Homo sapiens: one gene and its partners. The protein of the gene in region 1 purifies or fractionates together with the protein of each later gene. This does not show direct contact. Each region holds a gene or a part of one and is shown on either strand. Other genes may lie near its edges.

Region 1 (4,072 bases):
AGGCATAGCAAAATGCCTAGTCCATAGGTATTATTAAGTAAAAGGTAATTATTGAGTACATAAATGTCATGTGGCTGGAGAGACAGGCCAAGTGCAAGTGGTGAATAAACTTGTATGTCAGTCCAAGAAGTTTCACTTCTCAAAGCACAGGGAGCCTTGGAAAGATTTTAAGCCAAGAATTTTATTTGTTCATCTGAATCTTATTCAACATTTAAGTCCTCTTTTATGGAGGTTTCACTGACTATCTTAGTTGCTGTATTTTCTACTTCCCTCAACTCCTACAGAGCTCTGGCAGCACAGTGAGGAGGCCAAGAGTGAGGCCCATCTCTGCCATTTCCTATCAGAGTGTCATTGGGCAAGTAACTTGACCTCCCTATTTCCCCGTATGTAAAATGGGATGATTGCAATAGTAGTACCTACTCCTAGGGTTATGTATTTATTTATTTTTTGAGACAGAGCCTCACTCTGTTGCCCAGGTTGGAGTGCAGTGGCACAATCTCAGCTCATTGCAACCTCTGCCTCTCAGGTTCAAGCGATTCTCATGCCTCAGCCTCCTGACTAGCTGGAATTACAGGCTCCCCACCCCGCCCACCCTGGCTAATTTTTGTATATTTAGTAGAGATGGGGTTTTGCCATGTTGGCCAGGCTGGTCTCGAACTCCTGACCTCAGGTGATCCACCCGCCTTGGCCTCCCAAAATACTGGGATTACAGCCGTGAGCCACTGTGCCCAGCCTACTCCTAGGGTTATTGTGAGGATTAAATGAGTCAATAGTTGTAAAACTTGGAACAGTACCTGCACATGGTAAATGCTACTTAGGTCGTTGTTAAATAATATAGCATGCTAATTTGCACCTCGCGTCTTTATTATCTTTTTCTACATATGCCTAAGTCTGCCACGCAGCCTCCTTGTGGAGAGGATAGTGACTTGTTATTGTGCTTCTCTGTATATTCAATATCTCTTCCACATTTGAAGTGAATAGCTTTAAGTCAGAAATTCAGATTTAGAAAAATAAATGGATCATATTGAAATTAGGGAGGCCTAGATACAGGTTATTTTTTTGTTGTTCTTCAATCTGTGTCCCTTGGTTATGCATTTGAAAAGCCTAAAGAAAACATACAGAACAGCCTCGATGCATACTGTACTTAGGGTGAGTAAAAGAGTTTTGTTGGAAGTATAGAAATAGCCCCATATCATGTGTCCTTCTGTACTTTACAAAAGGAATTCTTCAATTGCAAATTAGTACTCACTGCGCATTTATACTGTGAGCGCCAAATTTCTGCTTATGTAGGCAGAGATATGCTATTCATATTTTTTCCAAAATGTTTCTAACACTACTTAAATAATCTAAAATAGTCTAGTGAAGTGGTGTCTATGCAGACAGTTTATGAGGACTGGAGATTGGTGCCAGTATTTTTTTTTTTCATATCTTGGCTTAGACTAGTCCTAGCAGAGTTTTATAAAAGTCGCATTACTTTCTTTTTCATTGCTAAAAATGAAATGCAATATTCTTTTTGTACCAGAACTAAAGTGTCTCTTCAACACCAGGTTAGATGAGGACTATGTACATAGAAGGCCTTTACTTCCTAACTTGCCAGTTAGTCAGCCTTTATATTGTAGTCTACAGCACCCTGTGCAAATTTTTTTTTTTTTTTTTTTTTTTTTTTAGGTTTGGCAGTACATGTGAAGGTTTGTTACATCCTCATGTGCCATGCATATAAATATTTGTTGAACACAGTCTCATTTCTCAAAAGTCATTTCAAATATCTCAAAACTTAACATGGTTTTGCAACTGCAAACACATTTTTCTTTTTTCCTTTCTTGCCATGATACATTTTTCTTTTATTCCTTTCCTGCTATGAGAGTCTGATCTGCAAATGTAATATTTTACCCAGCAGTTCTCTGTTTTTCTAAAGTTGCTTGGGATTACATTTGGTCAAGAAGACTGCAAGGGAGGGCTTCTGAAAATTTGGTTTTATATTGGTCGTATTGATCATATCATGAAAACTGCCATAAAAAGGGCCCAAATAACTTGAAATAATGTGAATGGGTTTGAATTTTAGCCTAGTAGCCACATCTAACAACAGTCTTTCTAAAGGGTTAAATTTTCATTGAAGCATTTCTTTTTAGTAATTATTCTCCAAAGGATTTTGAACAGGAGAAGAAGTTTTTAGATAGAATCAGAAAATATTATTCTGGTAGTCTACAGAATAAAGTTGAATTTGAGATGGAGGTTTCAACATCAGCCAGAAAAGTTTTTTAATGTGGAATTTTTTTAAGGGTTTAATTTTCCCCATACTTGGCAAAGAGGGAGTTTTGAGGCTTATAATTTAAAAACTGACTGCTGATGATTTAAATATAGCAAATTAAAATGCAGAATTAACTTAGAAATAAAAATGTTACACATCGAGGAGGCAACATGTCGTGGAAGGTGACTCAGTTCTAAGGCCTGCTCAGCCACCAACCGGCTGTGTGATGGGCAGGTAACTAAACACTGGCCCTCACTGTCCTTATTTGTCAACCAAACGGATTTGCCTGGATAATTTATTAGCCTGAGAATCAGCTCTGATGTCCTGATTCCAAACAAGCAATTCTTTACCTTTGAGACCTGGTTCTCCTTTGTCCCCTATTACGTGGGATATCTCTGAAGGCCCGGGATTTCCTTTATCTCCTTGTTCCCCCTTGGCTCCTGGGGTTCCTCTCTGGCCCTTTACTCCTGGAATTCCAGGGCTCCCTAACAGACAGGAGTAACAACATCAGGTCCTTAATTCTTCAGGTAGTTCATAGGGATTAAAAAGTTGGCAGTGCTTACTATAAAACAGAACAAATCAAACAAAAAAGGCTAACAGTGCTGAGAACTTGATAAATAGTTTCCCCAGGCAGGCAGCCTCATAAGGGTAGTGGTGTAAGCCTACAGAAAACAGGATTCCATTCAAATGGAGAAAAGGAACATAGAAAACAGCAAAATCAAATACTGTTGCTCTCTCAGAACTATTTTTCCCTCCAATGAAACATAACTTTTTTTGCTGCAAAATAAATGAACATTGTTTATGCTTCCTGCTATTTAGAAAGACACTCTATCACTTACCCCTCTGCCCTGGTGTGCCTGGGTTCCCAGGGGGCCCTGGAGGGCCAATGGCTCCAGGAAAGCCCATCATCCCAATCACTCCATCTTCACCTATGGAAACAAATTAACACAAAGCAGCACGTGTTGTACAGAGTGAGAAAAGCAAAATATTCCATATACTAAAATAAATTATACTTAGAAGCAGAGATTGGGAGTTGAAAAAATGGCCTCTGTACATAGTACAATTACTGTATTAGTCTAGGAGATGGGTCGGTAAGTGGTCTTTTAAACTCACCTATGTGGAAGTGATTGGTAGCAAATCATATTCATGGATGAGGATAGCATATGTGGAAGTTTTGGAGCATTCCATCCTCCCAGCCCCTGACCAGTCACTTTCTATTCTATCCCTTCACTTTATTTTCTTCATAACACTTGTCTCAAATTGAACTTAGATTTTAAATATTTCTATTATTGATCCTCTACTATGAGAAGGGGAGACTTGTCCACTGACTGATGTGTCTCTAGGGCCTAGAAGAATGCTGGCATGTGATAGTAGCCCAATAACATGAATGAAAGGATAATGTGTCGATTAAGTTGTTTTAGGCTCTTTTCCAGAGGGGAGATCGGTGAGGTCCTTATGCCATGAGGGAACAGAATATTCTCCCCAAACATATAAACAATAAACATAGCCATGAAATTAAAACAATTATACAGAAATATGATGAACAACAACAACAAATCAGATAACTTATAAAAATGGACAAGTTTCTAGAGAAACAGAATACCAAAACTGACTCCAGAAGAAATAGAAAACCTGAATATACCTATAAGAAATGAAGAGATTGAATTAGTCATTTAGAGACTTCCCAAAAAGAAATGCCCAGACCCAGATAACTTCACTGGTGAATTCTACCAAATGTTTAAAGAGCGTCGATTCTTCACAAACTGTTCCAGAAAATACAAGAGGAGGAAACACTTCCCAGCTTGTTCCATCAGACCAGCATTA
Region 2 (3,500 bases), on another chromosome or scaffold:
AGATAGTGAATATGGTGGCAATTTTTGGGGTCAACGCTTGGGGTAGAGTGAGGTAGGTTTGTTATATAGGGAGGGTATCTGGGCCTCCAACAGAAGAAGAAAAGCAGAAATGGACTGCTTTGTTCTTGGATGGAAATGTGGTAGAAAGTTGGGGTGAATTAAGTTTGGACCTGGGAGTTAGATTAGATTCTGGAGGATAATGGTAGAGAAGGAGAATGTTCATAACTTGGGCATTTTTGTCAGGAATTGTGGGAACTATAAAAGGGATTTTGTAACATGAGTTACAAAAATTATTAAGTGCTGTATTCTGACCTAATCTCTACAGAAGAATTTCAGAAGTACTGTGAAGATATTGTAAACACAGCTGCATGGGGAGGTCAGCTTGAGGTAAGTTTGTAGTTATTCATAGTGATTGTGGGTTGTTAAATTATTTCTAAATCCCTTCTGTAGTTTTTAGATGTTTCTCAGCTGATCCCAATTTCTCTTTGAAGATTCCTTTTCTTTATATATTTGCTCTTCTCAACTGACAAAGAAATAGGGAGTTAACATGATTAGGTCTGTGATTAAAGTATGTATGTTGAGGGATTGAAACACTATTACATTTTAAATAGCTCAGTGTTAGATCTGTGTGTTAGAAATACATATGTGTAAGTCTTTTCATCGTGATAGTAGTATTGGCAATACATTTGATTTTCTGGACTTAGGAAAATGAAAATTTTACTGAAGTAAAGTAAAATTTAGCCTAGTAGCTCAGCTGATCAAAGTCACTATTGGAAAAATATCTTTTTTACATCAGAAATGGAAAAAAAAAATTATGTGAAATTATAGGCCAAATCCTACCACAACATATATATTAAAATCGTATTTTGAATTCCTAATTGATAGTGACTGACTTACTTGAAAGCAGTAGTTGGTGCATTAAATTCATATGTAAGAAAACAGTATGTTCAGTCACTTACAGGAAGTTATCAAGATTACTTTTTAGCTCTAATTTTAAAAAAATCTTACTGTTAACTTTGTTTTGTTAAAAACAAACAAACAAACAAAAAAAACAGGTAGGTAGGCCAGATGGTGATGAAGCAGCCTGGGTATTAAATAGGATAAGAAAGAAAGTTCTGGGTTCAGGTCCTGGCATTTTCTTCCACCCCTCTGTTTTGTGGCCACAGGGGAGTCAGCCATCCTCCCAAGCTTGAGTTTCTTGATTACTATATGGCCATAATAAACCCTCTCTGTGTATTCAGTTGAGCATTTTTGAGCATTAAGTAAGGCAGAGAGTACCTGCATAAAAGTTTGTAAGCTGAAGTGCCAGATGGATGAACCTAGGCAGTACGATTAGTAATATATAATGATGATTAATCATCATGAATAGTCTGTGGCTCTAAATAATTCACTTTAAGAACTGCTTCATTTGAAGATGCAACATGAATGTTGCCCCAAAATCTTTTTCTTAGTACTGCTGTGTATGTGCATTTCCACCAGAGGGAACTGTATCCATTAGTTTTGTATGCCTCGGAAACTCAGGAAATGTTCATAGTAGCTTTGTTACTACTACATTAGGAATAATTAAAAATGCTTGAACTTTCTTAAAAGGATCATTCATATGAGTATTAGAGATTAAATCAAGAAATTAAGAAAAACCTTTTAAAACATCTTTTGAGGGACACTTATACATTTTTTTCATCTGTGAATTCATTTGAAGTAAGAGTTGCAGTTTTCACAATAGAGTAAATTTAAGTTATTAAAGAAAATCATTCTATGATCTCTGAAGTTAGAAGGCATAGTAGGATTCCCAGAGTTTGGTTCGCATCCTCTATTCTATGCTAGTTTCTTAAAAATGATATTTTAGGTATAAGAAAAATGTACCTCAAAGGAACGTTTTTGATTTACCACCATGCAGCAGAGTGCTTTCCATATTTTTGAAGTAATTTCTTAAATTCTTTCAAAACCTCAGGAAGGAGTATGTTCATCAATGGAATGTTCTTGTAATGGGGCAAGTACATATCCCATAGTGCCCCCATAGATCGGGGCATTATGATTTTTACTTTCTTTTTGAGACAGAGTCTCACTCTGTCACCCAGGCTGGAGTGCAGTGGTGCCACCCATCATTGTTCACTACAGTCTCAATCTTCTAGGCTTAAGCTTTCCTCCCACTCCTGAGTAGCTGCACCACCATGCCTGGCTAATTTTTGTATTTTTTGTAGAAACGGGGTCTCCCTGTGTTGCCCAGGCTGGTCTCGAACGCCTGAGTTCAAGTGACTTTGACAAGTCTTGTAACCCTTTTTTTGCCTCAGATTCTAGGTCTTTAAAATAACGACAGTACCCATCCCATAAAGTTATTGAGAGGATTAAAGGAATTAATACACATAAAGTACTTAAAATGCTTGAGTGTTTGGTCATATGTCTTTTTTTTTTTTTTTTTTTTTTTTGAAACAGGGTCTCACTCTGTCACCCCAGTTGGAGTACAGTGGCGTGATCTTGGCTCACTGCAACCTCTGCCTCCCGGGCTCAAGTGATCCATCATGCCTGGTTAATTTTTGTATTTTTTTGTAGAGACATGGTTTTACCATGTTGCCCAGTCTGGTCTCGAATGCCTGGACTCAAGGTATCTGCCTACCTTGGCCTCCCAAAGTGCTGGAATTATGGGTGTGAGCCACTGTGCCTGGCCCGTAATCATAATAAGTCTTTAAAAATGTTAGCATTAATGTTCAATATTCACCATTATTCATCTGGCTTTAGGCTCTAATTTTATATTGTATGGTATGAAATTACTTAAAATTGTATATTTTAATCAAATAGAAATTCATTGATAGGGCAGTACAATTCATATACATATTCTACTCTTTGAAAATTATAGAACAGTGGTTGTCAACAGTATTTGTAGATTAGAATCATCTGAAAAACTTTAAAAAAATAAATATTTTGTTCTTCCCCCTGCCCATTTTCTCACATTGTAATTTATTTGGTCCGGTGCTTGAGCAATGGTATTTAAAAATTTTTTTTGTTATGAACATTTTCAAGCGTATTCAAAAGTAGACTAGTATAATATACCTAGTCTACCCATTGCCCCTCTTCATTAACTGTGGCATTGATATTTTTTACAAAGCTTTTGTGCAGGCAGGGCTTGAGCAGTCTCTGCATTTGATTTAATAAATACAAGTTGAGCATCCCTAATCTGAAAATTTGAAATTCGAAATGCTCCCAAATCAAATTTTTTGAGGGCTGACATCACAAGTGGAAAATTCTACACTTGACTTTATGTGACAGGTCACAGTTCAAACTTAGTTTCATGCACAAAGTTATTTAAAATGTATAAAATTACCTTCATGGTGTGTGTGTAAGATATGTATGAAACATGAATGAATTTTGTGTTTAGATTTGAGTCCCATCCTCAAGATATCTCATGTAGTATATGCAAATACTCCCAAATCTGAAAAATTCAAAAACTAAAACAATTCTGGTTCCAGGCATTTAGGATAAGGGATATTCAACCTGTATTATAT
Region 3 (3,500 bases), on another chromosome or scaffold:
GATCTCAAAAAAAAATAAAATAAAAAAAAATTTGCCCATGGCTGGCCGGGCGCGGTGACTCACGCCTGTAATTCCAGCACTTTGGGAGGCTGAGGTAGGTGGATCACCTGAGGTAAGGAGTTCGAGACCAGCCTGGCCAACATGGTGAAACCCCGTCTCTACTAAAAGTATAAAAATTAGCTGGGCACGGTGGCAGGCACCTGTAATTCCAGCTAGTTGGGAGGCTGAGACAGGAGAATCGCTTGAACCCAGGAGGTGGAGGTTGCAGTGAGCTGAGATCGTGCCACTGCACTCCAGCCTGGGTGACAAGAGCAAGACTCCCTCTTAAAAAAAAAAAAATTGCCCACTGCTATAGTGGGAAGTTCTGACACTGTCTTCTTTTTCTGCCCTGCAGACAAGCGAACTGACAAATCTGCCGTGTCGGGTGCCATCCGGCTCCACATCAGTGTGGAGATCAAAGGCGAGGAGAAGGTGGCCCCGTACCATGTCCAGTACACCTGTCTGCATGAGGTGAGGGTCATTGCTCGGCCCCTCCCATGCCACTTCCACTCACCATTCCTGCCTGCCCAGCTCTTCCTCTTTCTGGCCACACCATCCACACTCTCCTGGCCCTCTGAGACTGCCCGCCATGCCATTCCCTTTACCTGGAAAACTCCTCCCTATCCATCAAAGTCCAGATTCAGGGTCACCTCCTCTGGGAAGCCCACCTTGGCCTCCAGGTTGACTCTCACTACTCATCATCAGGTTCTTCCTTCTATTCCAGCCCTAACCACTCAGGATTGGGCCGTTTGTGTCTGGGTATGTCTCTTCCAGCTGCCTGGGTTTCCTGGAAAGAACTCTTATCCCCAGGAACTAGTTTGTTGAATAAATGCTGGTGAATGAATGAATGATTGAACAGATGAATGAGTGATGAGTAGATAAAAGGATGGATGGAGAGATGGGTGAGTACATGGATGGATAGATGGATGAGTTGGTGGGTAGATTCGTGGCTAGATGGATGATGGATGGATGGACAGATGGATGGATATATGATTGAACTATTGAAAGTATAGATGTATGGATGGGTGAATTTGGGGGTAATTGTTAGATGATGGATGAGTATAGATGAATGATGGATGGATAACTTGATGAGTGGATAGATAGATTGCTGGATAGATGATTGACTGGGTGGATAGATGAAATGTTGGATGAGCAGATTAAGTTGTATTGGATGGGATGGATGGAAGTGTGGTTGAGTTATTAGAAGGAAGATTGAGTAGATAGGTGAATTTGTTGATAGTCAGATGGGTAGATAGGTAGATGGATGGATGGATGGATGGATGTATAGGCAGATGGACAAATGGATGAATGGGTGGGTGGATGAATGGAAGGATGTGTGGTTGAACTATTGCAAGTATTGATAATTGGGTTCATAATTTCTGAATATTTAGATGGATGGTTGTGAGTGGCTGGTGGACAGACGAAAAATGGATGGTTGGATAAATTGATGGGTGGATGGATGGTTGGTTGTATGAAAGAATGAATGATTGGGTAGGTGGATTAAGTTGCGGATCAATGTATGGGATGGATGAATGGATGGATGGATGGATGTGTGGTTGAATTACTGAAAGGTTGGAAGAGTGGATGGGTGAAATTTGGGGTAGTTAGATGGGTGGGTGTGTGGATGGATAAAAGAGTAGATGAATGAATTAATGAATAAACAGGCAGATGGATGATGTAAGCTGCCCCAGACCCTGGGACCTCTGACCCCCGGCGACCCCTTGCACTCTCCATGACACTTTCTCTCCCATGGTGGCAGAACCTGTTCCACTTCGTGACCGACGTGCAGAACAATGGGGTCGTGAAGATCCCAGATGCCAAGGGTGACGATGCCTGGAAGGTTTACTACGATGAGACAGCCCAGGAGATTGTGGACGAGTTTGCCATGCGCTACGGCGTCGAGTCCATCTACCAAGCCATGACGTGAGACTGCAGGCTGGGGTGCAGGAAACAAGAGGGAGGTCACCAAGTGGGCACTGGCAGGTCTGGGGTGGGAGGGATTCTCAGGGGGAAGACCCAGAGAGGAAGTGGGCGTGGTGGTGGTGGGTTCCGTAATTCCCCTGGAGATCAGGAGAGCGCTGTGATTGACACCTGGAGTGACATGGAAGAGAGGGAAGACTTAGAAGCAGAGATAGAGGCTGGGCACAGTGGCTCAAGCCTGTAATCCCAGCATTTTAGGAGGCTGAGGTGGGCGGATCACTCCAGGTCCAGGAGTACAAGACCAGCCTGGCCAACATGGTGAAACCCCATCTCTACTAAAAATACAAAAGTTATCCAGGTGTGGTGGCTTGGGCCTGTAATCCCAGCTACTCGGGAAGTTAGGGTGGGAGAATTGCTTGAACCTGGGGGGCAGGGGTTGCAGTGAGCCGAGATTGCGCCACTAAACTCCAGCCTGGGTGACAGAGTGAGACTCCATCTCAAAAAAAAAAAAAAAAGAAAGAAAGAAAAAAAGAAGCAGAATTAGAGCAACTCAAATGGATATAAAGATGGAGGGGAGAGGAGATGCGGAGACCCAAAGGACAGAATCAGGCAGGGGATGGTTTAGGAGGTGACAGAGACCCACTCACAGATGCTATCTTGGAGGCATTCTAGGGGGGATCTTGGTCCATCCTGGCTGGACCCCTGGCCTAGTGCCTCCTGCTCCCTCTCTCCAGCCACTTTGCCTGCCTCTCCTCCAAGTATATGTGCCCAGGGGTGCCTGCCGTCATGAGCACCCTGCTCGCCAACATCAATGCCTACTACGCACACACCACCGCCTCCACCAACGTGTCTGCCTCCGACCGCTTCGCCGCCTCCAACTTTGGGGTCAGTCCTGGGGACTGGGATTGGAGAATTAGGGAGAGCCCAACTTTATGCCGGTCAGATCTGATGTGACTTCTGGGTCCCCAGTCTAGACCTGATTGCTGTGTGACTTTCCACCAGTCACTTCCCGTCTCTGAGCCTCCATTTATTCCTCTGTAGAATGCTATAGAATGGAGGTCGGGCGCAGTGGCTCATGCCTGTAATCCCAGCACTTTGGGAGGCCGAGGCTGGAGAATCACTTGAGGCCAGGAGTTCGAGACCAGCCTGGCCAACACGGTGAAAACCCGTCTCTTCTAAAAATCCAAAAGAAAATTAGCTGGGTGTGGTGGCCTGTGCCTGTAGTCCCAGCCACTTGGGAGGCTGAGGCAGGAGAATTGCTTGAGCCTAGGAGTCGGAGGTTGCAGTGAGCTGAGACTGCGCCACTACACTCCAGCCTGGGCAACAGAGCAAGACTCTGTCTCAAAACAAAAAAAAAAATGCCATAGAATGGAAATGGACATTATGAGGGTGGTGGATGAGGTATACTTACTGTACAGTAGGCGCTCAGCCACTATGGCGGCCATGTCCTGCCTCCATCCATCCTCCCTCCTCCCCTTCCTCCTCAGAAAGAGCGCTTCGTGAAACTCCTGGACCAGCTGCATAACTCCCTGCGGATTGAC

Evidence for each region.
Region 2: the proteins of COL4A3 (region 1) and OTUD6B fractionate together in Homo sapiens (co-fractionation; one large-scale study listed by BioGRID). This does not show direct contact.
Region 3: the proteins of COL4A3 (region 1) and UNC13A fractionate together in Homo sapiens (co-fractionation; one large-scale study listed by BioGRID). This does not show direct contact.

What each region holds. Positions count from the first base shown.
Region 1 is NC_000002.12:227,282,872-227,286,943, reverse strand, and holds part of COL4A3 (collagen alpha-3(IV) chain precursor), read right to left. Parts: intron 3,178-4,072; coding exon 3,088-3,177; intron 2,734-3,087; coding exon 2,599-2,733; intron 1-2,598. UniProt on the Homo sapiens protein: Type IV collagen is the major structural component of glomerular basement membranes (GBM), forming a 'chicken-wire' meshwork together with laminins, proteoglycans and entactin/nidogen.
Region 2 is NC_000008.11:91,080,344-91,083,843, forward strand, and holds part of OTUD6B (deubiquitinase OTUD6B), read left to right. Parts: intron 1-325; coding exon 326-387; intron 388-3,500.
Region 3 is NC_000019.10:17,639,855-17,643,354, reverse strand, and holds part of UNC13A (protein unc-13 homolog A), read left to right. Parts: intron 1-394; coding exon 395-510; intron 511-1,798; coding exon 1,799-1,962; intron 1,963-2,693; coding exon 2,694-2,844; intron 2,845-3,446; coding exon 3,447-3,500. UniProt on the Homo sapiens protein: Plays a role in vesicle maturation during exocytosis as a target of the diacylglycerol second messenger pathway.